7 linked regions of the Homo sapiens genome follow. The protein of the gene in region 7 interacts with the protein of the main gene of each other region in a pairwise test. Each region holds a gene or a part of one and is shown on either strand. Other genes may lie near its edges.

Region 1 (3,500 bases), on a different chromosome or scaffold from region 7:
GTAACTCTAATTACTAGAAACTATTAGTAATTCAATTGTTACTAAAATAATTTTATACCAAACTGCATGGCTGTTTCACATCTGCTCCTAACTGTGGAGACTCTCTAGATTCAGGATAAGGTATATAGGAACAAAGTCCAAACAGGGGGGGATGGAGGAGGGATAGCATTAAGAGATATACCTAATGCTAAATGACGAGTTAATGGGTGCAGCACACCAACAAGGCACATGTATACATATGTAACAAACCTGCACGTTGTGCACATGTACCCTAAAACTTAAAGTATAATAATAATAAAATTAAAAAAAAAAAAAAAAAAACAAAGTCCAAACAGGACACCAGTTAAAAAAGGAAGTAATAAGGCCCTACAAGATAGGTCCCTAAACACTCACTAAGATGGTGAATTTTCCACTGAGGATCTCAGAACGAAGAGGTTCCTCATGAGGTTTCAGCTTTACAATGCCTTCCTTCCTTCGAGTTTCCTAAAAAGGAAGCACAGCAAAATGTATTAATATGAAAATACTGTATATCCAGGACAGCACCATGTAACCACCAAATCTCAGAGATAAGGTGGTTATCAATGAATGAATGAATTATAAATTTCATAACTAAATAAATTTTGTAACTAATTTCATAACCAATTCTACTTCATTTAGTTGAATTAGAATTCAATTAAATGGGCCGGGCGCAGTGGCCCACGCCTGTAATCCCACCACTTTGAGAGGCCAAGGCGGGCAGGTCACCTGAGGTCAGGAGTTCGAGAGCAGCCTGGCCAACATGGTGAAACCTTGTCTCGGCTAAAAATACAAAAATTAGCCTGGCATGGTGGTGCGCGCCCATAATCCCAGCTACTCAGGAGGCTGAGGCAGGAGAATCGCTTGAACCCAGAAGGTGGAGGTTGCAGTAAGCCAAGACAGCACCACTGCACTCCAGCCTGGGTGACAAAATGAGACTCTGTCTCAAAAAAAAAAAAAAAAAAAAAAAAGAATTCAGCTAAATGAATAATGAAGTCAACTAAATGAATTATGAATTTCTTTGTAACCTGCCTCCAAGCCAGTCAAGCATTTTCGGAATTCCTGTCCAAAGCTACTTTATCAGCCCCTCAGGTAGGGTATTTTTCTCTGACTCAGTAAGAACCCTAACCCTGAAGAGTAACCAGTATGTTACATTCAGGTGCAGGATCAAGGTTCTTAAACACGCAGCAGCACTGACATGGTACCAGGACACTAAAATATGGACCTCAAAAATGTCTGGATGCCTACGTTCTCACATATTTTCTAGGTTTAGGCCTCTCCTATGTTTAAATAGGAGCCTTCTCTCCACCTGATATTGTCTCCAACAGCAGCTACCATGACTTCATTTTCCTCACCCTGATGGCCAGATTCTTTTTTTTTTTTTAATTGAGACCAAGTCTCACACTGTTGCTGAGGCTGGAGTGCAGTGGCATGATCTTGGCTCACTGCAACCTCCACGTCCAAGAGATTCTCTTGCCTCAGCCTCCTGAGTAGCTGGGATTACAGGCACGTGCCACCATGCCTGGCTAATTTTTGTGTTTTTAGTAGAGACGGGGTTTTGCCATGTTGCCCAGGCTGGTCTCCAACTCCTGGGCTGAAGCGATCCACCCGCCTCGGCCTCCCAAAGTGCTGGGATTACAGGCATGAGCCACCGCGCCCAGCCTCTTCAGTTCTCCTCTTAAATGACAAGGTTGACCACCTACACTTCCTTTTTCCGGAGACATTCTCTACCTTTATATACCGATAACAAAAAAATATTATCTTGGTTTGTCTTATTTCATCAACCGCTTGTTTTAAACCTCTTAGGCTGGGCACGGTGGCTCATGCCTGTAATCCCAGTACTTTGGGAGGCCGAGGTGCGTGGATCACTTGAGCTCAGGAGTTCGAGACCAGCCTGGGCAACATAGCAAAACCCCGTCTCTACTAAAAATACAAAAAATTAGCCAGGTATGGTGGTGCATGCCTGTGGTCCCAGCTACTCGGGAGGCTAAGGTGAGGTGGGAGGATCACTTGAGCTCAGGAGGCAGAGATCTGCAGTGAGCTGAGATCATGCCACTTCACTTCAGTCTGGGAGACACAGCAAGACTCTGTCTCAAAAAAAAAAGTGCTTCCACAGAATCCAGTGCTGCCTTATCATAACATTTCTACAACTCTTTGTTTATTTTCTCTTTCTTTTTTTTTTTTTTAAACAGTCTCACTCTGTTGCCCAGACTGGAATGCAATGGTGTGATCTCGGCTCACTGCAACCTCCACCTCCTTGGTTCAAGTGATTGTCCCTCCTCAGCCTCCCGAGTAGCTGGGAATACAGGTGCCACTACACCCAGCTAATTTTTGTAGTTTTAGTAGAGATGCGGTTTTGCCATTTTGTTCAGGCTGGTCTCAAACTCCTGACCTCAAGTGATCCACCTGCCTTGGCCTCCCAAAGTGCTGAGATTACAGGCATGAGCCACCGCACCCAGCCCTAGTCTCTCTTTCTAAATAGTAATCTCTGCACCTGGAACACAGTAAGTATAAAATAAGTATCTGTTGAGTAAATGAATGAATATTGAATGAGCTGGTCCACAAGACAGATGTAACCAAACTTCAGTTAAGCTAATCCTAGTGCTTGTTATCCCAATTTTTTTTTTTAGGGAGATTTTGTATTTCTTTAGAAGGATTCTGACCCCAAAGTAACATGCTGTATAGTGTTTTATCAAAGACACTACTAACTGAGAAAGCAAACAAGCACAAAACCAAAGTCTATGCCCCCTCAAAAAACAAAAATCAAAACAAAGTAAAATCCTGATGCCGCTACATTTGCATAAAGATACTTTAAGATAATGGACCTAGCTAATACACAGTTGCTCTTCTTTTCCAGTGTTAAAACTTCCCTTCCTGAACTGCCCACTAAGCTCATCATTCATCTGAATGGCAAGTTTCTAAAAGCCTTAGACAACCTGAAAACCAAGATTTTCATGTGGCCAGAGGCCAATGAAAAGAGCTAGGATTAAAACTCTAGGAAGGGTGAACCCCTATCCTGCCACCAGGATGCTGTCAGGCTACTTCCTCCGTCTCAATCATTAGATGTGGCATCCTGGTCTACGATCAAAACTTAGGTACAAAAGTAGTGCCTTCCAGTAGCTGCCTTGCCCAGCTTCAGCTCTCACAAGGGCTCCTGGATATGGATCCATTTTTTATGAAAGTGAGGAGGAACACTTAGAGAACCAATGTGTGTGTCGAGCATGACAGGGACAACAGCAACACTTAACCCAACTGCCACAGGTCTGGTCTACCCCTGAGCCACATACTCTGTAGGAGTGGAACAATTCTATGGCACGGAGCACATCAAACTTCCTTGCCATGAGGAACTTGACAGCCACATTCCAAGACAGCGGGGAAACATTGTACTGAACTGTCCACTTGTTAATCTCTTCGAGAAACTGCTTGGTAGCCTGTTTGACAAAGAAAGAAAGAATAATTAGTAAGAAGAGAGCATATTTATGGAG
Region 2 (3,500 bases), on a different chromosome or scaffold from region 7:
GCAAGAAAAGAAGCTAACAAGCTCCCTCAGGCCTCTTATAAGGAGATAATCCCATTCACAGGGCTCTGCTCTCATGGCCCAGTCACCTCCCAAAGGCCCCACCTCTTAATAACGACACACTGCAGATTAGATTTCAAGATATGACTGGAGAGGGGAGGGGTTGGGGGGGACATTTAGACCACAGTGATGGTCGTCCATTAGGTCTAGTTGGGTTGTAACGCTGTTCAAATCCCCTAGTTCCTTAGTGATCTTCTGTCTAGATGTTCTATCCATTTTTCAAAGTGGAGTACTGAAGTCTCTATTACTATAGAGCTATTTCTCCCTTCCAATCTGTCTATGTCTGTTTCAGATAGTTTGGAGCTCTTTTTTTTGATGTGTATCTGCTTATAATTGCCATATCTTCTTGATGACTCTGCCCTTTTATAAATACATACTGTCCTTATTTGTCATCTATTTTGTCTAATATTGGTATAGTCACCCCAACTCTCTTTTGGTTATTCTCTGCATGGAATATTTTTCCACCTTTCACTTTAAACTTATTGTGTCTTTGAATCTAAAGCCTCTTGTGGCATATAGTTGGACCATGTTTTCTTACACATTCTGTCAATATTTGCCTTTTGACTGGAGACTTCACATGTAATTACTGAAAAGGAAGGACTTCTGCCATTTTATTTATTTTTGATAAATCTTTTACCTTTTTGTTCCTCAGTTCCTCTACTGCTGTATTCTTAGGTATTACCTTTTTTGTAGTGTACCATTTTAATTCTTGCCTTACTTCTTGTGTCCATTTTTTTTTTTTTGAGACAGTCTCGCTGTCACCCAGGCTGGAGTGCAGTGGCATGGTCTCAGCTTACTGCAACCTCTGCCTCCCAGGTTCAAGGGATTCTCCTGCCTCAGCCTCCCAAGTAGCTGGGACTACAGGCGGGTGCCATCGTGCCCGGCTAATTTTTTGTATTTTTAGTAGAGATGGGGTTTCACTGTGTTGGCCAGGATGGTCTCAATCTCCTGACCTCATGATCTGCCCACCTCAGCCCCCAAAGTGCTGGGATTACAGGCGTGAGCCACCGCGCCTGGCCTCTTGTGTCCATTTTTAAGATTTTTTTTTTTTTTTTTTTGAGAGGGAGTCTCGCTCTGTCTCCCAGGCTGGAGTGCAGTGGCGCGATCTTGGCTCATTGCAAGCTCCGTCTCCCGGGTTCACGCCATTCTCCTGCCTCAGCCTCCCAAGTAGCTGGGACTACAGGTGCCCACCACCTTGCCTGGCTAATTTTTTTGTATTTTTAGTAGAGACGGGGTTTCACTGTGTTAGCCGGGATGGTCTCAATCTCCTGACCTTGTGATCTGCCCGCCTCGGCCTCCCAAAGTGCTGGGATTACAGGCATGAGCCACCATGCCTGGCCCATTTTTAAGATTTTTTTTTGAAGTGGAGTTTTGCTCTGTCACCCAGGCTGGAATGCAGTGGCACAATCTCATGCCTCTGCCTGAGTTCAACCTCTGCCTCCTGGGTTCAAGCAATTCTCCTGCTTCAGCCTCCTGAGTAGCTGGGATTACAGGTGCCCACCACCATGCCCAGCTAATTTTTGTATTTTTAGTAGAGACAGGGTTTCACCATGTTGGCCAGGCTGGTCTCGAACTCCTGACCTCAGGTGATCTGCCTGCCTTGGCCTCCCAAAGTGCTGGGATTACAGGTGTGAGCCACTGCGTCAAGCCCATTTTTAAGATATTTTCTTACTGATTACCATGATGATTGCAATGAACGTTCTAACATCCTAAAACAACTGATACCAGTTTAGTCTCAGTAACACAAAATCTCTGCTTCTCTACAGATGTTACCCCCCTTATGTTGTTGTCATCACAGATTACACCTTTATACATAGTGGGGTAAAAAACATAGACTTATAATGCAGACCTTTTATGCATTTGTTCTTTAGATCACTTAGGAAATATGTAATGGCAAAAACCACAATTAATTTTGCACCAACTTAATACAAAGTGTACTTAGAAACCAAAATATAGGGATACTAACTTTTATACTTACCTATGTAGTTACTTTTACTGGAGGTCTTTATTTTTGTATGGCTTTGAGTCCCTGTCTAGTGTTCTTTCATTTCAACCTTCAGGACTCCCTTTAAAAGCATTCCTTGTGGGGCAGTCTATTTGTAACAAGCTTCCTCAGCTTTTATCTACCTGGATATGTTTTAATTTCTCCTTCATTTTGAAGAATAATTTTGCCAGATAACAGAATTCTTAGTTGACAGGTTTTTTTCCCCCTCTTAGCAGTTTAACTAAGCCGTCCCACTGCCTTCTGACCTCCATGGGTTCTGATGAAAAACTGGCTAGAAATCTTACCCAGAACCCCTTGTTCAGGGATAGGTCTCCTCTCTTGCTGCTTTCAAGATTCCTTGTATTTCAACAATTTGATTAGAAAGAGACCTGGTGTGGATCTCTTTAAATAGACTCTACTCAGTTTGTTGAACTGCTTGTGTGTGTAGACATGTCTTTCATCACATTGGGGATACTCTCAGCCATTATTTCTTCAAATATTTTTTCCATCCCCTTCTCTATTCTTTTCCTTCTTGAACATCCCTACTATGCACGTTGGTCTACTTGATGGTGTCTCATGGTCCATTAAGTTCACTTTTCTTTTTTCTTTTTTTTTTGAGACAGAGTCTCACTCCATTACCCAGGCTGGAGTACAGTGGCACGATTTCGGCTCAATGCAACCTCCGCCTCCTGGGTTCAAGCGATTCTCCTGCCTCAGCCTCCAGAGTAGCTGGGACTACAGGCATGCATCACCACGCCTAGCTGATTTTTGTAGTTTTAGTAGAGACAGGGTTTCACCACGTTGGCCAAGATTCTCTCGATCTCCTGACCTCAAGTGATCTGCTTGCCTCGGCCTCCCAAAGTGCTGGGATGACAGGCGTGAGCCACAACGCCCAGCCATTAAGTTCACTTTTCTTAGATCTTTTTTCTCCTCAGACTGAATGATTTCAATTATCCTATCTTCAAGTTGCCGATTTTTCTGCCTGCTCAAATCTACTGCTGAAACCCTCTAGCAAAATTTCCATTTCATTTTTTAGTTCCAGACTTTCTATGTTTCTTTTACAATTTGTATTTCTTATTGATATTTTCATTTTGTTCACACATCATTTTCCTGGTTCTTTTAGTTCTCTATGGTTTTTTTTTTTCTTTTTTTCTTTTTTTTTTTCTTGAGACGGAGTCTCACTCTGTCACCCACGCTGGAGTGCAGTGGTGTGATCTCAGCTCACTGCAAGCTCCGCCTCCTGGGTTCATGCCATTCTCTTGCCTCAGTCTTCAGAGTAGCTGGGACTACAGGTGCCTGCCACCATGCCCAGCTAATTTTTTGTATTTTTAGTTGAGATGGGGTTTCACCTTGTTAGCCAGGATGGTCTTGATCTCCTGACCTCGTGATCCACCTGCCTCAGCCTCCCAAAGTGCTGGGATGACAGGCATGAGCCACCGTGGTGCTGGGTTACAGGCGT
Region 3 (4,117 bases), on a different chromosome or scaffold from region 7:
CCCCTTGCTGTGTCTCCATTTCCCTTATGTAACACAGGGGTAGTAATAATGATAGTTTACACCTCCCAGGGTAAAGTACACCACTAAAGATGTTACCTGGCAGAAGACAAATTCTGTCGGTTTTGAACCTGTGACAGATTTTAATGTGAAAAATTAGGTGAACTGATATGTCTCCACATTTTTTTGTTTGTTTTTGTTTTCTTTGAAAGGGGGTCTCACCCTGTCACTAGGCTGGGTGCAGTGGTGTGATCATAGCTCACTGCAGCCTAGACCTCCTGGGCTCAAGCGATCCTTCCGCCAGTCCCGAGTAGCTGGGACTACAGGCATGTGCCGCCACACCTGGTTAATTTTTAAATTACTTTTTTTTTTTGAGACGGAGTCTTGCACTGTCGCTCAGGCTAGAGTGCAATGGTGCGATCTCGGTTCACTGCAACCTCTGCCTCCCGGGTTCAAATGATTCTCCTGCCTCAGCCTCCCGAGTAGCTCGGATTACAGGTGCCCACCACCACCCCCAGCTAATTTTTGTATTTTTAGTAGAGATGGGGTTTCACCATGTTGGCCAGGCTGGTCTCAAACTCCTGACCTCGTAATCGGCCGACTCCGCCTCCCAAAGTGCTAGGATTACAGGCGTGAGCCGCCGTGCCCGGCCCTTTAAATTACTTTTTAAAGACAGGGTGTTGTTATGTTGTCCAGGCTGGTCTCAAACTCCTGGCCTCAAGTGATTCTCCTTCCTCAGCCTCCCAAAGTGCTGGCATAATGGGCATGAGCCACCATACCCAGCCTGTCTCCATGTTTAAATGTTCACATGTCAGTGCCCAGAATGTCAGAGACGGGCCCTGGAGGTCCACATTACAAACAAAAACTGAGGTTCCAGGTCCAGAGTCATGAAGACAAGGACAACAAGGGTAAGTAGAGTGCACAGGGCCTGGCTCCCACTTCATTCTAATCCCAACTCTGCCCTTCACTTACTGTGTGACCTCAGGAAAGTTGCTTAACCTCTCAGTGACTCTTCTCATCCATAAGAGAAAGGTGTGATGGGTTCTACCTCAGATGATTTTAAGGAGTAGCTAAATTAATACTCAGAAAGAATATATAGTGCCTACCACGTGACAAACACTGCATAAATTTTTTTTTTTTTTTTTTTTGAGACGGAGTCTCGCTCTGTCGCCCAGGCTGGAGTGCGATCTCGGCTCACTGCAACCTCCACCTCCCGATTCAAACAATTCTCTGCCTCAGCCTCCCAAGTAGCTGGGATTACGGGTGCCCACCAACACGCCTGGCTAATTTTTTTTTGTATTTTTAGTAGAGACAGGGTTTCATCATCTTGGCCAGGCTGGTCTTGAACTCCTGACCTCGTGATCCACCCGCCTTGGTCTCCCAAAGTGCTGGGATTACAGGTGTGACCACTGCACCCGGCATAAATTCTAATTACTATAATTATTTTTATGGCTATTACTGTCATTAGATTGAACCTCACCTCCTTATATTATTTAACCCTCTGTGACGTATACAAATGTCAGATCATATTGGTCAAGGCACTGTCACCCCACACAACACAGCTGCCATCTCTCCTCTGCATTGAGGACTATGGGCTCTGCAGCCTGAGTGCCTAATTTCAAATCTGGGCTCATCGGCCTCTTCTATTCACACTGATTATGTTACTGACCATCAGTTGTCACATCTGCAAAATGGGAATAACATGGCCATCAGCCAGGATTATGGAATGGATTGGACAAACAAGCTGAGACCAAAGTGGGGCACAGAACATGAGCTCTACGGATAAACAGCCCAGATCCTGGCCCCATGGATCTAGCCTTCTGGGTGGCCCACGGGCCCCTCAGCATCCTACGCCTGTGACTCTGTCACTGTCCACTTGCCCAAGTCAGAAGGCTGGACTTCATCTGTGCGCCCCCTGCCTTGTCCTGAATCCCACGCCTTCCCCACCTCCCCCAAGCTTCCTTCCCATAGCCAGACATCATGCCCTCCAGCTTGGGGAAGTGCCAGCTTCTTCTTTCATCCCTTCACCTCCAGTCCTGTCCATGCCAATTCTTCCCAAAGGTGATGTGGATAGCACACTCATCTGACCGGCTCTAGCTCCTGCTATCGCTTCCCAGTTCCCTCATGAGGTAAAGACCTAAGAGGCTTTGCAATTACAGCTATGCTGGTCTCCCTTGCCGCCTGCCATCCCCCAAGATCCCGGCCACTGATCTCTAAAGTGCTATCACTTTCCTCAACAGAGAACAGACTCAGCCGTCACCTGCACCAGGCCGCTCTCCCTGACCCCCAAGGCTGGGTCAGCTGTCACAGCTGGGTCCCCTGTTTTCCCCCATCACTCTGGTTCTTGAAGCACCTTCCTATTACGTCGCAACCTGCGTGAGGGCAGCAACCGCGACTTCCTCGTCCATCATCGTACCCTCTACCCACGCTGACCGTGCCTCAATAAACGTTTATTGCATGAGGAACATCCGTGCGTCTGGGCCCTCACTCGTCCCACTTCCCGCCCGCACATCCCGGAGTGGACACATATACAGCTACCCCAAACTAGGCCTGAGGGAATTTGGCTTGGACGTAGAGCGCCCGTGGCAAGGGGACTGTAGGTGCAAGGGCAAGGCGGTCCGGCATCACGGGCCCGGCTCACCTCGCCCAGCGCCTGAAGGCTCTTCACGGCGCCCACCACCGCCTGGTGCTCCATGCCCAGCTCAGCCGCCAACTCGGCGCTGTCCAGGCCGCCATCAGACGCCTCCAGCCGCCGGAGCAGCAGTTCCGCCACCTGACCATCCGCCATGACTCCTTCCAGTGTGCTCAGCGTGTCCGGGCCCGGGTGGGCGGGGGGAGCTGAGCCACCGGAACCGGAACCGGAGTGTGTACCGCCATCTTGAATGTGTCTAACTGTAGAACAGGGCTCAATGTGTCGTCATCTTGAGTGTGGCGACGGAGCCGCAAAAGGTGCATGGGACTCAGTTCCCACCTCCACCCTGGCTCCATCAATGGCGTCTGGTTGACCAGAGGGGTAAAATTGATTATCTCAAGGTCAGAAGCACCGCCCTGTTTTGAGTTTTATCTAGCCTCACTTCGAGCGGGCTGTGTGACCTTGGACTTCCCCGTCTCTGGGTTACAGAACCCTCTGCCCTTCTGGTATTCTCTCTTGCCCTAGGAGAGGCGGTGGGTGGTGGGCTCCAGAGATGGTCATTTTGGCGATGTCAGCTACTTTTAAAATTTCAAAGGAAGGCTGGGTAGGTACCGTCCCTTTTTATAGAGGGAAAAGGAATTCACCTAGTAAGTCAAGGTGGCACCTAACCTGTGTGGACTACCTCGTATGTGGTAGTACTTAGCCCAGAACTGAGTACTTCACGTGTAGTATTTCATTTATCCCCAAAACTTTATGATGTAGATACTGATATAACCGCATTACACATGTGAGAAAACTGAGGCTCAGAGGGTGGTATGACTTGCCCAAGGTTCTACAGAGAGTTGGTGGAAATGAAGTCATAAATTATAAACCTTCCAGATCCTCCCACCCCTGTGCGCTGAGAGTAACGTCAGTGCAAATACTGCATGGCCTAGATTAGCACTGTCCTATAGAAACACAGTGCAAAACATCTTTCTTTTTTGAGACAGGGTCTTGCTCTGTCACCCATGCTGGAGTGCAGTGGTGCAATTATGGCTTACTGCAGCCTTGACTTCCCAGGCTCTAAGGATCCTCCAACCTTAGGCTCCTGAGTAGCTGGAACTGCAGGTGCGCGCCACCACACCCAGCTTTTTTTTTTTTTTTAAGTATGGGTTTTGGCCATGTTGCCCAGGCTGGTCTCAAACTCCTAGGCTCAGGTTATCCTCCTGCATCGGTCTCCCAAAATGCTGGCATTAGAGGCATGACCCACCTCGCCCAGCCAGCCAGACCCTGACTCTTACAAAAAAAAAGATGACTAATAAAATATTTTGCACTCGGCCGGGCACAGTGGCTCACCTCTGTAATCCCAGCACTTTGGGAGGCCGAGGCGGGTGGATCACCTGAGGTCGGGAGTTTGAGACCAGCCTGACCAACATGGAGAAACCCCGTCTCTACTAAAAATACAAAATTAGCAGGGCGTGGTGGCGCATGCCTGTAATCTCAGCTACT
Region 4 (3,013 bases), about 140 Mb from region 7:
CGGCTCACTGCCATCTCCAACTCCCGGGTTCAAGTGATTGTGATTCTCCTGCCTCAGCTTCCCAAGTAGCTGGGAAGCTGGGATTATAGGCACCCACCATCATGACCGGCTAATTTTGTATTTTTAGTAGAGACGGGGTTTCGCCATGTTGACCAGACTGGTCTTGAACGTCTGACCTCAGGTAATCTGCCCTCCTTGGCCTCCCAAAGTGCTGGGATTACAGGCGTGAGCCACCACACCCACAAATTTTTTGTAGAGGCAGCATTTTGCCATGTTTCTCAGGCTGGTCTCGAACTCCTGGGCTCAAGCAATCCACCCTCCTCAGCCTCCCAAAATGTTGGGATTACAGGTGTGAGCCACCGCACCCAGGCGAGAAACATTTTTATAGTTACGGTTTTATGTTTATGTCTACCTTCTATTTGTGGCAGGTAGTATTAGTTTTCATTTACAATTATGTTATAATGTTTTCTTTCAAATAAATGTAAGTTTTTAAAAGTGACTTAATTTAAAGAAAACTTCTTTATTAAGTAAATGGACAGTTGGTACACAGATATTGCAAAAATTTCGAGGCGGGTACATGAATGACTGAAATTCAGGAGACGCGGGGAGTTAGCACAGAAGCACTTTCCTCATTCAGAGCTCTTTTGGCTGCGAGAAACAGACACCCAATCAAATCAGCTTCAGCAAAATGAGAGAATGTATCCTGACAAGGGACGCTCACAGGGCCTAAAGGAAGAGTGCTGGGCCCCTGGAGGACTGAGGGAAGCCGGCAGGTCCCTGGAGGCGGTGCCCGGCTGCTCTCCAGGCGCCTGTGATTCCTCTGGTCCCTGCCTTGCTATGCGTATCTTCCCTCTGAGCAGAGCCATTTTCTCTACCACATTCATGCAGGTGCCCATCCCCCGCAACACACACAGACAAACACACACACATGGACACAGTCACAGCTCCAGGGTTTCTATGTGTTCAGGTAAGGGACCTGCAAAGCCTGAACAGCCTCCCTAAATCTAGATGCCCACCTCTCATCCTTTCAGCTCCCATCAGAGGATCAAGGGGCCCAAATTCGCAGAAAAGGGGAGGGTCTAAGATGAGCAGTCACCCTGCCAAGAGGTGTCTGCCTCAACATTAGTGGCGTATAACAATCCCATGAGGTAGCTTTAACCTCATAGGTAATGACCCTAAGAGGTAGGAAATTCAGTGCCTGGTCCCTCAGCAGGAAATGACACAGCCAAGACTTGAACCAGGCTTGTGTGATGCTGCACTAGCCACCGGGTCATCCCATCAGCCAAGTCCAGCCCACAGCTACCATCCCAGACTCCAGCAGGTTACAGGTCCATCGAGAGGCATTTCTCAAAATCAGCAATCCGGTGTTTGCCCGGTACACAGGAAATGAGTATCCCAGCTTCACAGGGACACTGACTGGAAGGAAGGAAGACTTCTCTGAAGGAGCACAGAGCTCTAGAAACCAGAGAAGTTTCCTCTGAGCCCCTTGGGTCTGAGGCTGCCAGGTTCACACTGCAGATACTTGTCTCAGGGCAGGAGAGGAGGCTCATTTGCATATACTTGCCAAAAATCACAAGCAGACATCTAGAGATCCCCAGGAGAAGCTGACACCTGGCTGACACCTGCTGACAGTAACTGCTCCTCCCACCTCCTGGAAGCTATGTTAGGAGGACCCTCCCAGAGGGCAAGGGAGGAGAGAACTGACAGACCCTTCTACCCAGGGGCCTCATGTACTTCCCAGCCCATGTGCCTGTTCGTATGGAAGCCCCTGGACATCGGGGTGTCCTGGCCTGGACAGCTCCAATTTTGCCTTTTTTGTTTGTTTGTTTGTTTTTGACACAGAGTCTCACTCTGTCGCCCAGGCTGGAGAGCAGTGGCGTGATCTCGGCTCACTGCAAGCTCCGCCTCCTCCCAGTAGCTACAGCCTATGGGACTACAGGCATGCGCCACCACGCCAGGCTAATTTTTTTGTATTTTTAGTAGAGACGGGGTTTTACCATATTGGTCAGGCTGGTCTCAAACTCCTAACTTCAAATGATCGGCCCACCTCAGCCTCCCAAAGTACTGGGATTACAGGCATGAGCCATATTTTTGTATTCTTAGTGGAGATGGCGTTTCACCACGTTGGCCAGGCTGGTCTCGAACTCCGGACCTCAGGTGATCTGCCTGCCTTGGCCTCCCAAAGTGCTGGGATTATAGGCATGAGCCACTGAGCCCAGCCCCAATTTTGCTTTCAAGGGGCCTTTGCCCACCCTCAGTGGGTGGCTGCCCCACAGAAGGTACTTAATTAGGGACTATTGTTGAGACAGAAAGAGGAGGTGGGCATCTCCTTCCCACTCCCCCAGAGCTGACTGGACTAGAGGCAAGGCCTTTGCAGACAGACACGTCTGTCTTGGGAAGCAAGCTCTTGTCCTAGCTTTTGGTCTGTTCATGTTTTATCTTCTTTGGTCACCATTAGGGACAGGTTGCCAGATGAGTCAGAGAAGGTTCCATCAAGCCCCTTCCCCTGAGAAAGGTCACAAAGACCTTGTGCCGGAGGGTGGAGAGAGGATGGCAACATCTTAGCTCAAAAGTCTGCCCCAAGGTAGTGCCATACAGTGAGGGCAGTGTCCTTTCCTAACCCAGTCTACCTCTATCACTTGAGAGTAGTTGCCCAAAGCTTTTTTTTTTTTTTTTTTTTTTTTTTTGAGATGGAATCTCGCTCTGTTGCCAGGCTAGAGTGCAATGGTGCAATCTAGGTTCACTGCAACCTCTGCCTCCCAGGTTCAAGCGATTCTCCTGCCTCAGCCTCCTGAGTAGCTGGGACTACAGGCGTGTGCCACCATGCCCGGCTAATTTTTGTATGTTTTAGTAGAGATGGGGTTTTACAATGTTGGCCAGGATGGTCTCGATCTCTTGACCCATGATCTGCCCACCTCGGCCTCCCAAAGTGCTGGGATTACAGGTGTGAGCCACTGCGCCCACTCCCCCAAAGCTTTAGACCGATGCCCCATCGGGGAGAACTAGGTGGTTT
Region 5 (3,500 bases), on a different chromosome or scaffold from region 7:
TGACATCCTCATATCCCAAGGGATCGCCAAACTTTTCTCCATCCGTGATGACAACTAGGATCTTAAAGGCATTCTTTCGGGCTCCGTTGGTGATGTTAAACAGCTCTCGTCTGTGCAGGAAACAGGAGGGACAAAGTCAAATGCAAGTAGATGACACACTAGTTTTTTTTTTTTTTTAAGAAATAGACACTCACTCTGTTATCCAGGCTGGAGTGCAGAGACACAATCATAGCTCACTGCAGACTTGAACTCCTGGGCTCAAGTGATTCTCCTGCCTCAGCCTCCTGAGTACCTGGGACTACAGGCATGTACCACCACACTTGGTTTATTTTTTTATCTTTTTAGAGATAGAGTCTCACTATGTTGTCAATTGGTCTCAAACTCCTGGCCTCAAGTGATCCTCCCACCTCGGCCTCCTAAAGTGCTGACATTACTGGTATGAGACCCTGCACCTAGCCAGAGATGCTATTAACGTCAGAAAGGAAATGTCAGCAGAGTCCCAGACACAGATACAGCTAGGCGAGGTCTCGGAGGGGCTCCGTCTCCCCTGAGACTTAGCACTGAGATGCAACTGCCCCGAGACCTGGAAAAGCAGCAGGGAAGGGAAAGGAAGCCTTCACGGTTTTTGTTTTTATACTTTCGCATAATTTGGGTTTTTTAACTGAGTATTATTACTTTTGAATTTTAAAAATATATATATTTATGGCTGACACTTGTAATCCCAGCACTATGGGAAGCCAAGTCAGGTGAATCACCTGAGGTCAGGAGTTCAAGACCAGCCTGGTCAACATGGTGAAACCCTGTCTCTACTAAAAATACAAAAATTAGCTGATGGTGGTGATGGACGCATGTAATCCCAGCTACTCAGGAGGCTGAGGCAGGAGAATTGCTTGAACCCAGGAGGTGGAGGTTGCAGTGAGCCGAGATCAGGCCACTGCATTCCAGCCTGGGTGACAGAGTGAGACTCTGTCTCAAAAAAAAAAAAAAAAAAAAAAAAAAAAAAAAAAAAAATATATATATATATATATATATATATATATATATATATATAGTTAATTGGCCTTCAGGAAACCTCTCCCAGAGCACTGCACCAGCTCCCCAGCCCCTCTAGGACTCTCCAGTGCTTCTTGTACTTCTGTCCCAACCCCATCCTTGCCTCTACACCCACCTCAAAATCAGAGTGAACTTCCCAAAATGAGACATGGCGATATCTCACCACAGGCTGTAAAGCTGCCTTTGGCTCCCTGGCCTGAGCTGATCTTTGTAGCTTCCCTCCAGACACCTTTCCCTCACTTCCCCACTCCACTCCCACCTTTCACTCACAACTTGTCCTTTGATGAACACACCACGCACAGCCTCCCCACCTCTGCCGGTGGGGAAGCATCCTCTACCACCCCTGTCTGAACGGCTCCCTTCATCCATCAAAGCCCAGCTAAAAGTGTCTCCTCCTCCCTCCATCCTAAGGGAAAAGGGGAAGCTTACACCACTTTGCGGATGCCCGTGGCCGTGTGTGTCCGCCCAAGCAGCTGCGTTATTGGCTTCACCAGTGATCTTGGGTTAGGGTTGTTCTGGAACTCTTTGAAGGTAAAGTGAATCCGGAATTCTTCAGAGTACTGCATCAAAGAGAACTGCGGAGGGGGCGGCTGGTGTGATGCTGGAGAAGGTGCCCCCACCCCTCAGACATCTCCCAGCAAGCTCCACGAAGATCTTAAACACTCCACTCTCCAAATTCCTCCTCTGTGCTGCCCCTAATCCCCTGCCTCACCAGGACGGAGAGCTGCCAGCAGCTCCCATCTCTCCTCAATACTAGAACACGGCCAGCGGCCGGGAGCAGTGGCTCACACCTGTAATCCCAGCACTTTGGGAAGCCGAGGCGGGTGGATCACCTGAGGTCAGGAGTTTGAGACCAGCCTGGCCAAAATGGTGAAACCCCGTCTCTACTAAAAATACAAAAACTAGCCAGGCATGGTGGCATGCGCCTGTAATCCCCGCTACTCGGGAGGCTGAGGCAAGAGAATTGCTTGAACCCGGGAGGCGGAGGTTGCAGTGAGCCAAGATCACACCACTGCACTCCAGCCTGAGAGAAAGAGTGAGATTCTGTCTCAAAAAAATAAGAAATAAAAATGAAAATAGAACTCAGCCAGCAATGACACGTGGGCTTCATCTCCCATGCCAACCTTAACAATTAGAGCTGCCCGCTTTATAAAAGGCTGAAAGAATGCTGAGGCTGCATCCAACAGAGCAGAAAAGAGACTCAGGAAGGCAAACCATAATCGATCGTCAATTTGGCAATGTCTGCAGTTGAACTGGGAGGAGAACATGGTGGCCCGGTTGCCATGTATCTTCCAGCCCCGTGTGGGCTCTTCCCTAACCTACCCCTGGGCCCTCACCAAGGTTTTGGACTTTTTTAATTGCTCCATCACAGTTGAGACAAACTCCTTCATCCGCCGAAAGTCATGTGGGATGATGCTACCAGAGCCATCAATCAAGAAGGCAATGTCACTATCCTCTTGAGGACACCCTGGGGAAGGGGAAAAGAGTATGAATCAAGTAATTTGACACTTGGTGTTTTGGGTTTTTTTGCATGTCAGCCCTCTGCTGAACAATGAGAATATAGGACCCCGTCTCTATAAAAAATATAGATGTTAAATATATATATAAATTATGTATAATATATATATAATTTTTAACGTGTGTGTATATATATATATGTATACACACGTTAAAAACATATATATATATATATATATATATATATATATATATATATATATACACACACACACGTTAAAAATTAGTCAGGCATGTTGGCACATGCCTGTAGTCCCAGCTACTCAGGAGGCTGAGGGTGGGGGATCACTTCAGCCCAAAAGGTTGAGGCTTCAGTGAGCTATGATCACGCCATTGCACTCCAGCCTGGGCCACAGAGAAAGACCCTGTCTCTTAAAAATAAATAAATAAGTAAATAAACAAGGACAAAGTGGTATGGAAAATTTTCGTTAATTCTGCCCAAGGGAATCAGGGAATGTGGTGATGTTTGACTGAATCTTGAAGAACAGGAAATAATTTGCCCAGCTGGGCGAGGTGGCTCACACCTGTAATCCCAGCACTTTGGGAGGCTGAGGCAGGTGGATCACTTGAGATCAGGAGTTTGAGACCAGCCTGGCTGACATGGTGAAACCCTATCTCTATTAAAAATACAAAAAGTAGCTGAGATCGCACCACTGCACTCCAGCCTGGGTCACAGAGCAAGACTTCGAAGAAAAGGAAGAAAGGAAGAAAAAAAGGAAAGGAAAGGAAAGGAAAGGAAAGGAAAGGAAAGGAAAGGAAAGGAAAGCAAAGGAGGAAGGAAGGAAGGAAGGAAGGAAGGATTTGCCAGATATACAAAAGGAGTAGATTCTAGAAAAGGGAAGGGCACACACATATAAAGTGATGTGGAATGTGCTCCTCTGCCTTCTGCCCCATCCCCAAATCCACTTTCTACCCATTGCCGCTCAGCT
Region 6 (3,500 bases), about 86 Mb from region 7:
ATGCCTTAAATATATAAAATATAAATAAGACAAAAGTACCATTCTCTACTAAAAGGGAGGCCTAACTAGGTCAAGGAAAGTAGAAGATGAGTCCAGATGATCTGGTGGAGCCAGAAAATAAAGAAATGCTCAATGAATAATAGGGATGTGTTAAAAGGACACAGGAGGCAGCTCCAAGGGGTCCCCATTGGCCAAATTGAGCACAATTTGAGCATTAAAATAAAAAACAATCGTGAGACTTCAACTTATTGAATACATAAGGAATCCATGAACAGTTCTTAGTAAAAACATAACAGAAAAATAAAGTTCTTCCTTATAGTAGTATGCCAACTAACAAATGTAGAAAGAGTGACGGTGATAAAGAATCATCACTTGAGGCTGGGTGCAGGGGCTCATGCCTGTAATCCCAGCACTTTGGGAGGCCAAGGCAGGTGGATCACTTGAGCTCAGGATTTCGAGACCAGCTTGGGCACCATGGTGAAACCAACTCCATCTCTACAAAAAATACAAAAAAAAAAAAATAAGCCAGGTGTGGTAGTGTGCACTTGTAGTTCCAGCAACTTGGGGGGCTGAGGCAGGAGGATCACTTGAGCCCAGGAGGTTGGGGCTGCAGTGAGCCAAGATCATGCCACTGCACTCCAGCATGGCAACAGAGTGAGACCTTGTCTTAAAAAAAAAAAAAAAGAATCACCATTTGGCAACATTCATAGAGGTGGCTGATTCAGGCAGACGTCATCAATAAATGGTAGTTTCTGTAGGTACAGGTTTAATGAGGAACAGGCTATTTGCATAACCCTAGAATAGTTCCCCACAAACACTAGTACAAAGGTGTTTTCAAACACCTTTGGGGAAACAAAGGGAAACGAAGGAAAAATGGCGAATTTAAGGTGAAGAAATCTGGCAAACACCAACATAACCAGGTGATTGAGGTCAATATCCCAGCAGTGGGATGGGTTGGCACCATGTGCCTTCTGTTGTAAGAAGCTAAGAAGAGCTGAGTTTCATTTCTGAAGGATTCCTGCCAAGAATGCATGACCTCAGTCAGGCTGTGAAGAAATACCCAATACAGCCAGGTTGGGAGTCATCCTACAGCATGTAGGACCTATACAACTGCAAACACTTTAGGAACAGGGAAAGTCTGAGGAACCGTTCCAGAAGAGACATGGTAACTAAATGTAACATGAATCCTAGATCAGACAGGTAGAAGAGACATTTGGGGGATAACTGACGAAATAGGAATGGGCTCTGTGGATTGGATGATAGTGTTTTGTATCAATGTCCATTTCCTGATTTGATGGGTGTACGCTGGTTATATAGGAGGACAGAGTGCTTGCTTTTTTTTTTATGCTGGAGTGTTTTCAAGAGTGATGGAGAATAATGTCTATGACTTCCTCTCAGAATAAAGACTGATGATGTATATTTTATATATATATATATACATACATACACACACACACACACACACACACACACAGAGAGAGGCAGAGACAGAGAGAAGGAGGGAGGGAGAGAGAGGGAGAGATTGAGATTTCAAACCTAATGCCATGGAGACATAGAAAAAGATTATACTACTTATTTTCTCTTCACCAGACCCATGTGATAGTTTTTGTCCAGAGAAAGGCCTTCCTTACCCCCATTCGACGAACTGACTTACTAAAAATCAAACAGGGCAGGAGGTAAATGATTCACTGATGTGCTCCCAATAAATTCTATACTTGATCCCTTGCTTTGGTTTTCTATAACTAGTCACTGCCAATGGCTTTGAGTCTTAACTCTGGCTTTCTACCTCCTTAGGGAGTGAATGCTGCTGATAGACTCCGCTGCCTATCTTTGAATTACATGGTCTGAGTCTGTCTGGGGGCAGCTCCAGAATTTCTACAGAGGATGTGCTTCGGGATAGCTTGGCTTAAAAGGGGAGACCAGGGGCTTGCCTTAAAGCTGCATTTATAAAGCAAATACACTGCTTTTATTTAGACCGCATGTTTGCTTGGAAGGCCTTTGGACCAAATAGTGCACTTATGGAGGGGCTAATGTGCCCTCCAACCCAGCCCTGCCACCTGCCAAGCCATCCCTTGATAACTGGTCAATCTGCACATGGGTGAGTCAAGGCCAGGGCTAGTAGAAGCTCCAGCTTAATGTCCCAGGGAACAATGTAGACACAGGACTAGCTGATGAGTAATTAGAGGGGTTGATGAACATCCTCAGGAAGGGGTGGGGCAGGCTGTGCTGGGCAGGTTGCTTTCCACAGTGACACCCAGTCTGGCCCAGCCTGAGGTGTACAAATGATTCACATCTGAAGAGGGGTGACAGAATCATGGGAGTAGGGCAGTATCAGGGGTCATGGGCAAGGGAGGAGTTCAAGGTTGTAGATACACAGGACAAGAGGCCAGCCAAGGAAGAGGAATAAAGAGGAGGACATAAGACTGGGGGTGATGAAGAGAGGGGTGGGTATAACCCAGGATGTCAGAACCTTCCCCTCAATGGTACTAAATCCCCTCCCCCACCCTCCAGCTGGCTTGCCAGGACAGGTAGAGAGCAACAAATATCTTTCAGACTGAATTAAGTAATTAGCTTAATTTGGGGGTGGGGGAGCAATGCCTTTGGTCAGTTTAGAACTTTGCAGAGTAAACTAGAGACCCAAGTCAGCAAGAAGGCACAGGGGAGTGAGGATGGTATAGGTGGACCCAATACATTGTCCAACATTGCCATCAGCACCCTCCTCCTGACCTGTGGGATGGGTGGTGGCCAGCTGTTTGTGTTTGTCCACTAAGAACTGAGATGCGCAGACAGTACAGGTAATTCCAACACGAAATTAAAGCTTCTTTGGAACTTTGCCCTATGCCTTCGATCATGTAGTGTTGGGTAACCTCAGTCCTGAAATTTAACTTCCTCTCATATTCCCCACAGAGCAGTTTCTCAACCTTTGATGCTATTTCCTCCTCGAAGTCCAGTATGATGTCAGAGGACGGGAGAGAGGAATATGGAAGAACTGCAGCAGTGCCCCCTTAGCACTCAAAACATGCTTGTGGAGATACTGCCAACCCCCAATAGCCAGAGCTGAGTGGGCCTGCCTGGGGTGGCCCACATCTGGATGTCCTGCCTCTTTAATTCCAATGTTTATGCACTCTTCACAGGGTACAAAGCTCTTTCACGTACATAAGTTAATGGAACTCATTAACAATCCATGTAGACAGGTAGAAAAGTAATTATTATCCCCACTATATAAATGAAAAAAACTTAAACATGACAATCTATTCAGGGTCACAAGAACTCACAAAAGTGGGACTAGGATTCAAAGACAGAACCCTGTGCTCCAAGTACCTCTAGTCCACCGTTTGTAAAAGCACAAAGTCTCTGCACTTATGCAGATAGCTCCCCAGCCCCATCACCACCTCTGCCATCCACAGCAGGACTGAGTTCCAGGTGACTCCTCCACAAATACAGAATCCAGGATGAGGAACAAAGGATCATCAAGGCCGGAAAGGGGGAGGCTCAGTACC
Region 7 (3,500 bases):
AGAAATGAATCAGAATGCCTCATTAGGCCAGGGTAAACCACAACATCAGAATGTTTATATAACAATTTATTAAAGCGGAAATGCTTGATTGTGGTTTTTAATAAACTGTTGAGTGTTTAAGAAAGAGTCTTGTGGTTGTCCTTGTGACTTTTGTAATTGTTGTTGGACCATATGCTATTAGACTTAGAGTTGTCTTTATTAATTAACTACTTAAAAGAATGCCATCAGTAGCTGATAACCAGAGGTTCCAGGTTTCCATTAATAAGGTCATTAAGGGAGATAACAGAGATTTTATTTAAGATTAAACTAAGCCTTGATTTGTAGCACATTTTATTCTCTGTAACATAAGTTTGCCAGAGGAACATTTTTATGCCTTTGTAGCCTTTTATATGAATAATTCATATTATAAGGTAGAAGTACTAGGTACCTCAGTTGAAATTTGAGGCCGGGCACGGTGGCTCACGCCTGTAATCTCAGCATTTTGGGAGGCCAAGGCAGGTGGATCACGAGGTCAGGAGTTCAAGACCATCCTGGCTAACACGGTGAAACTTCATCTGTACTAAAAATACAAAAAATTAGCTGGGCGTGGTGGTGGGCGCCTATAGTCCCAGCTACTCAGGAGGCTGAAGCAGGAGAATGGCGTGAACCTGGGAGGCGGATCTTGCAGTGAGCCAAGATTGCGCCACTGCACTCCAGCCTGGGCAACAGAGCGAGACTCCGTCTCAAAAAAAAAAAAGAAAGAAAAGTAATTTGATTTTAATTTTGTCCTAGTGGAAACTGGAGAAAGACGCTTTTTCATATTCAGTATTATATAAGAAATGTCATAGTTTTAGCCTTCTAAGAACCACAACAAAGAAGGTGGGATTACTAAAGGAAAAAACATCCTATAGTCTATAAGTATCCTAAATGAAATTTTAGTAAATTTTTAAATCTTTAGTAAGTTACAGATGACAGTTTCTCATGGTACTAATATTGATGTAGTTGAATGTAAGTAGATGTTGTGTGCCACTATTTTTGTTTTTATTTTTAGGTTTTTGAGACGGAGTATCACTCTTATTGCCCAGGCTGGAGTGCAGTGGTGCGATTTTGGCTCACTGCAACCTCCGCCTCCCAGATTCAAGCGATCCTCCTGCCTCAGCCTCCTGAGTAGCCCAACTATAGGTGCCCACCACCACACCTGGCTAATTTTTTGTATTTTTAATAGAGATGGGGTTTCACCATGTTGGCCAGGCTGGTCTCCAACTCTTGACCTCAGGTGATCCGCCTGCCTCAGCCTCCCAAAGTTCTGGGATTACAGGTGTGAGCCACCACGCCTGGCCATGTGCTGCTATTTTCAAAAGCCGAAGCTCTTGCGTTGAGTCAAAGGGAAACAAAGACTTTGGTGACTAGAACCGTAGTGTGTCTTGTTCATGCGTAAGATTAAGGTATTATTTTCTAAACTTGCATTTGTGGTTATTGAGAAATTACAGATCGGTAAAATAATATTATGGTCCAGATTTGAAGTGAAAGATAATCCCTAGGACAGTCAGTTTTTATGGGAGATTTCCTTGTTTTTTCTTTTTTTAATAAAAATGATATCTTAGTTCTATAGTATTTGGTACAGTGCTATGTCCACAAAAGGTTCTTGGATAGTGAATAGGCCAGAACTTGCTTTAAAATTGGCTTCTGTAGAGCAGTGTTTGGATAGACACCTCTGAGAAGACTAGCACTTTGAGCCAATTTGAGAGAGTTGCTGCTGCTGCTGCTGCTACTGCTGCTACTGCTGCTACTGCTGCTACTGCTGCTACTGCTACTACTGCTACTGTTCACCACTGGGATTACAATGTTGCCATATGCTGTGCAGACCAGTTTATAAAATCCAGAGTGGCTGCATGTAGAACATTTTTTTAAATCACTATTGACCATCTAGGTTTCATAGACACCCTCATACATGCAAACATACACCCACAGACGAATATTTTTAAATCACTTTATGAGTAATTTTTAAAAGTAAGATTAAAAGGGATTGTGTAAAACAACTTTAAAATTTTAATAAGAATGTAAGCATGGTAACCATCTTTGTATCAAGTAATGTTTGACTCACAAACATAAAAAGCTGAGAGAGTATAGTTACATCCTTGTAGCAACACAAGATAGTCTAGATACTTGTAAAATATTGGGTGTATGTTCTCCCTGCTGAAATGATTAACTCTATGATAAAATCATTTTTCCTTTCTATGCTTAGAAATATATTTTTTACTGACTGATTCTTAAGTTTGAGAAAATTCACCTAGGATATGTTTTGCTGAAGACTCATCTGAGATTTCACATATGATCGATTTTATCATCTAGACTCTAGAATGTGTCTCTGCATTTGTATTAGTTTCCTAAGACTACCATAAGAAGTAATCCAAACTGGGTGACTTAAAACAACAGAAATTACTTCTCTTTCATTTCTGGAGGCCACATATCCAAAATCAAGGTGTCAGATTTGTGATTTCTTCAGAGACTCTAGGTATCCATTTCTTGCCTCTTCCAGCTTCTGGTGGCTGTGGGCATCCCTTGGCTTGTGGCCACGCCATGCCATTCTGTGCCTCCATAGTTATGTTGCTTTTTCTTCTCTCTCTAAACTTCCTCTGCCTTTCTCTTAAAAAGATGCATGTGATTACACTTAGGGTCCAGCTGGATAATCTGGAATAAACTCCTCAAAACCTTTATCTTAATCACATCTTTTTCCATATAAGATAATTTTCACTCATTTGTCATAGAAAGTAATATTCACAGGTCCCAGGAATTAGAAAGTGAATATCTTTGGGAGGCCATTTTTTAGCCTACCACACCATTCATCTTTTGATTTCTTTAACAGTGGCAAGATGTCTTCCTCTGTCAGTTGTCTCCACTTTGCAAATACTGGATAGGCAGAAAATGAAAACTAAAAACAGGTTACAAAAATGGTGTTTTCAGTCTTCTTTTATACTTTCTGGAGGTGACATGATACTTTGTACAGCACAGTAAAGAAGCTCAACAATGATAAGTTATTGCATCATCCTTTCAGATCATTTTCTTATTTTAATTTCTTTTTATTACAAAAGGGAATAATTGATAAGTAATGATGAAATAATTCCTAGGATGATGAAATGGCAAAATGTTTCAAGATACAGGAAATATAAAAATACTGCAATAATCCTATAATATATCTTAGATTTATGAAAGGGTTCTTTGGACCTCTCTGGTAATTGCAAAATATAATTTATTTTATTCTGTTTTTTTAAATAAGTAAATTTTCTCATTATTTGAAAGACTTAAGAAAAGATAAAAATTATGAAATGCTAATTTATACAAATAGTGAGAACTGCTCAGAAAAGGAACTGAAAAACTAAAAGTGGACCCGTGGAACCCAGTGGTATACTGAGGGTTAATGGTTGAGTTTTTAAACATTTCAGGGGATACCAAAACAAAGAGACAATTTCTAGAATCCTTTAAAAATAACATTCATTAATTCATTCCATCCCCCTTTAAAA

Evidence for each region.
Region 1: the proteins of GORAB (region 7) and PTPN9 interact in binary tests that used the Homo sapiens proteins (3 or more experiments, as listed by UniProt).
Region 2: the proteins of GORAB (region 7) and ZNF16 interact in a two-hybrid assay, tested with the Homo sapiens proteins (one large-scale study listed by BioGRID and IntAct).
Region 3: the proteins of GORAB (region 7) and FARSA interact in a two-hybrid assay, tested with the Homo sapiens proteins (one large-scale study listed by BioGRID and IntAct).
Region 4: the proteins of GORAB (region 7) and PTAFR interact in a two-hybrid assay, tested with the Homo sapiens proteins (one large-scale study listed by BioGRID and IntAct).
Region 5: the proteins of GORAB (region 7) and ITGAM interact in binary tests that used the Homo sapiens proteins (3 or more experiments, as listed by UniProt).
Region 6: the proteins of GORAB (region 7) and LPAR3 interact in binary tests that used the Homo sapiens proteins (3 or more experiments, as listed by UniProt).

What each region holds. Positions count from the first base shown.
Region 1 is NC_000015.10:75,523,816-75,527,315, forward strand, and holds part of PTPN9 (tyrosine-protein phosphatase non-receptor type 9), read right to left. Parts: intron 3,447-3,500; coding exon 3,303-3,446; intron 484-3,302; coding exon 394-483; intron 1-393. UniProt on the Homo sapiens protein: Protein-tyrosine phosphatase that could participate in the transfer of hydrophobic ligands or in functions of the Golgi apparatus.
Region 2 is NC_000008.11:144,940,881-144,944,380, forward strand, and holds part of ZNF16 (zinc finger protein 16), read right to left. Parts: intron 1-3,500. UniProt on the Homo sapiens protein: Acts as a transcriptional activator. Promotes cell proliferation by facilitating the cell cycle phase transition from the S to G2/M phase.
Region 3 is NC_000019.10:12,930,912-12,935,028, forward strand, and holds the start of FARSA (phenylalanine--tRNA ligase alpha subunit), read right to left. Parts: upstream 2,801-4,117; 5' UTR 2,786-2,800; coding exon 2,639-2,785; intron 2,386-2,638; exon of another isoform or gene 2,238-2,385; intron 2,127-2,237; exon of another isoform or gene 2,059-2,126; intron 1-2,058.
Region 4 is NC_000001.11:28,146,666-28,149,678, forward strand, and holds the end of PTAFR (platelet-activating factor receptor), read right to left. Parts: 3' UTR 501-3,013; downstream 1-500. UniProt on the Homo sapiens protein: Receptor for platelet activating factor, a chemotactic phospholipid mediator that possesses potent inflammatory, smooth-muscle contractile and hypotensive activity.
Region 5 is NC_000016.10:31,269,975-31,273,474, reverse strand, and holds part of ITGAM (integrin alpha-M isoform 2 precursor), read right to left. Parts: intron 2,522-3,500; coding exon 2,391-2,521; intron 1,629-2,390; coding exon 1,483-1,628; intron 111-1,482; coding exon 1-110.
Region 6 is NC_000001.11:84,886,707-84,890,206, forward strand, and holds part of LPAR3 (lysophosphatidic acid receptor 3), read right to left. Parts: intron 1-3,500. UniProt on the Homo sapiens protein: Receptor for lysophosphatidic acid (LPA), a mediator of diverse cellular activities. May play a role in the development of ovarian cancer. Seems to be coupled to the G(i)/G(o) and G(q) families of heteromeric G proteins.
Region 7 is NC_000001.11:170,545,666-170,549,165, forward strand, and holds part of GORAB (RAB6-interacting golgin), read left to right. Parts: exon of another isoform or gene 1-126; intron 127-3,500.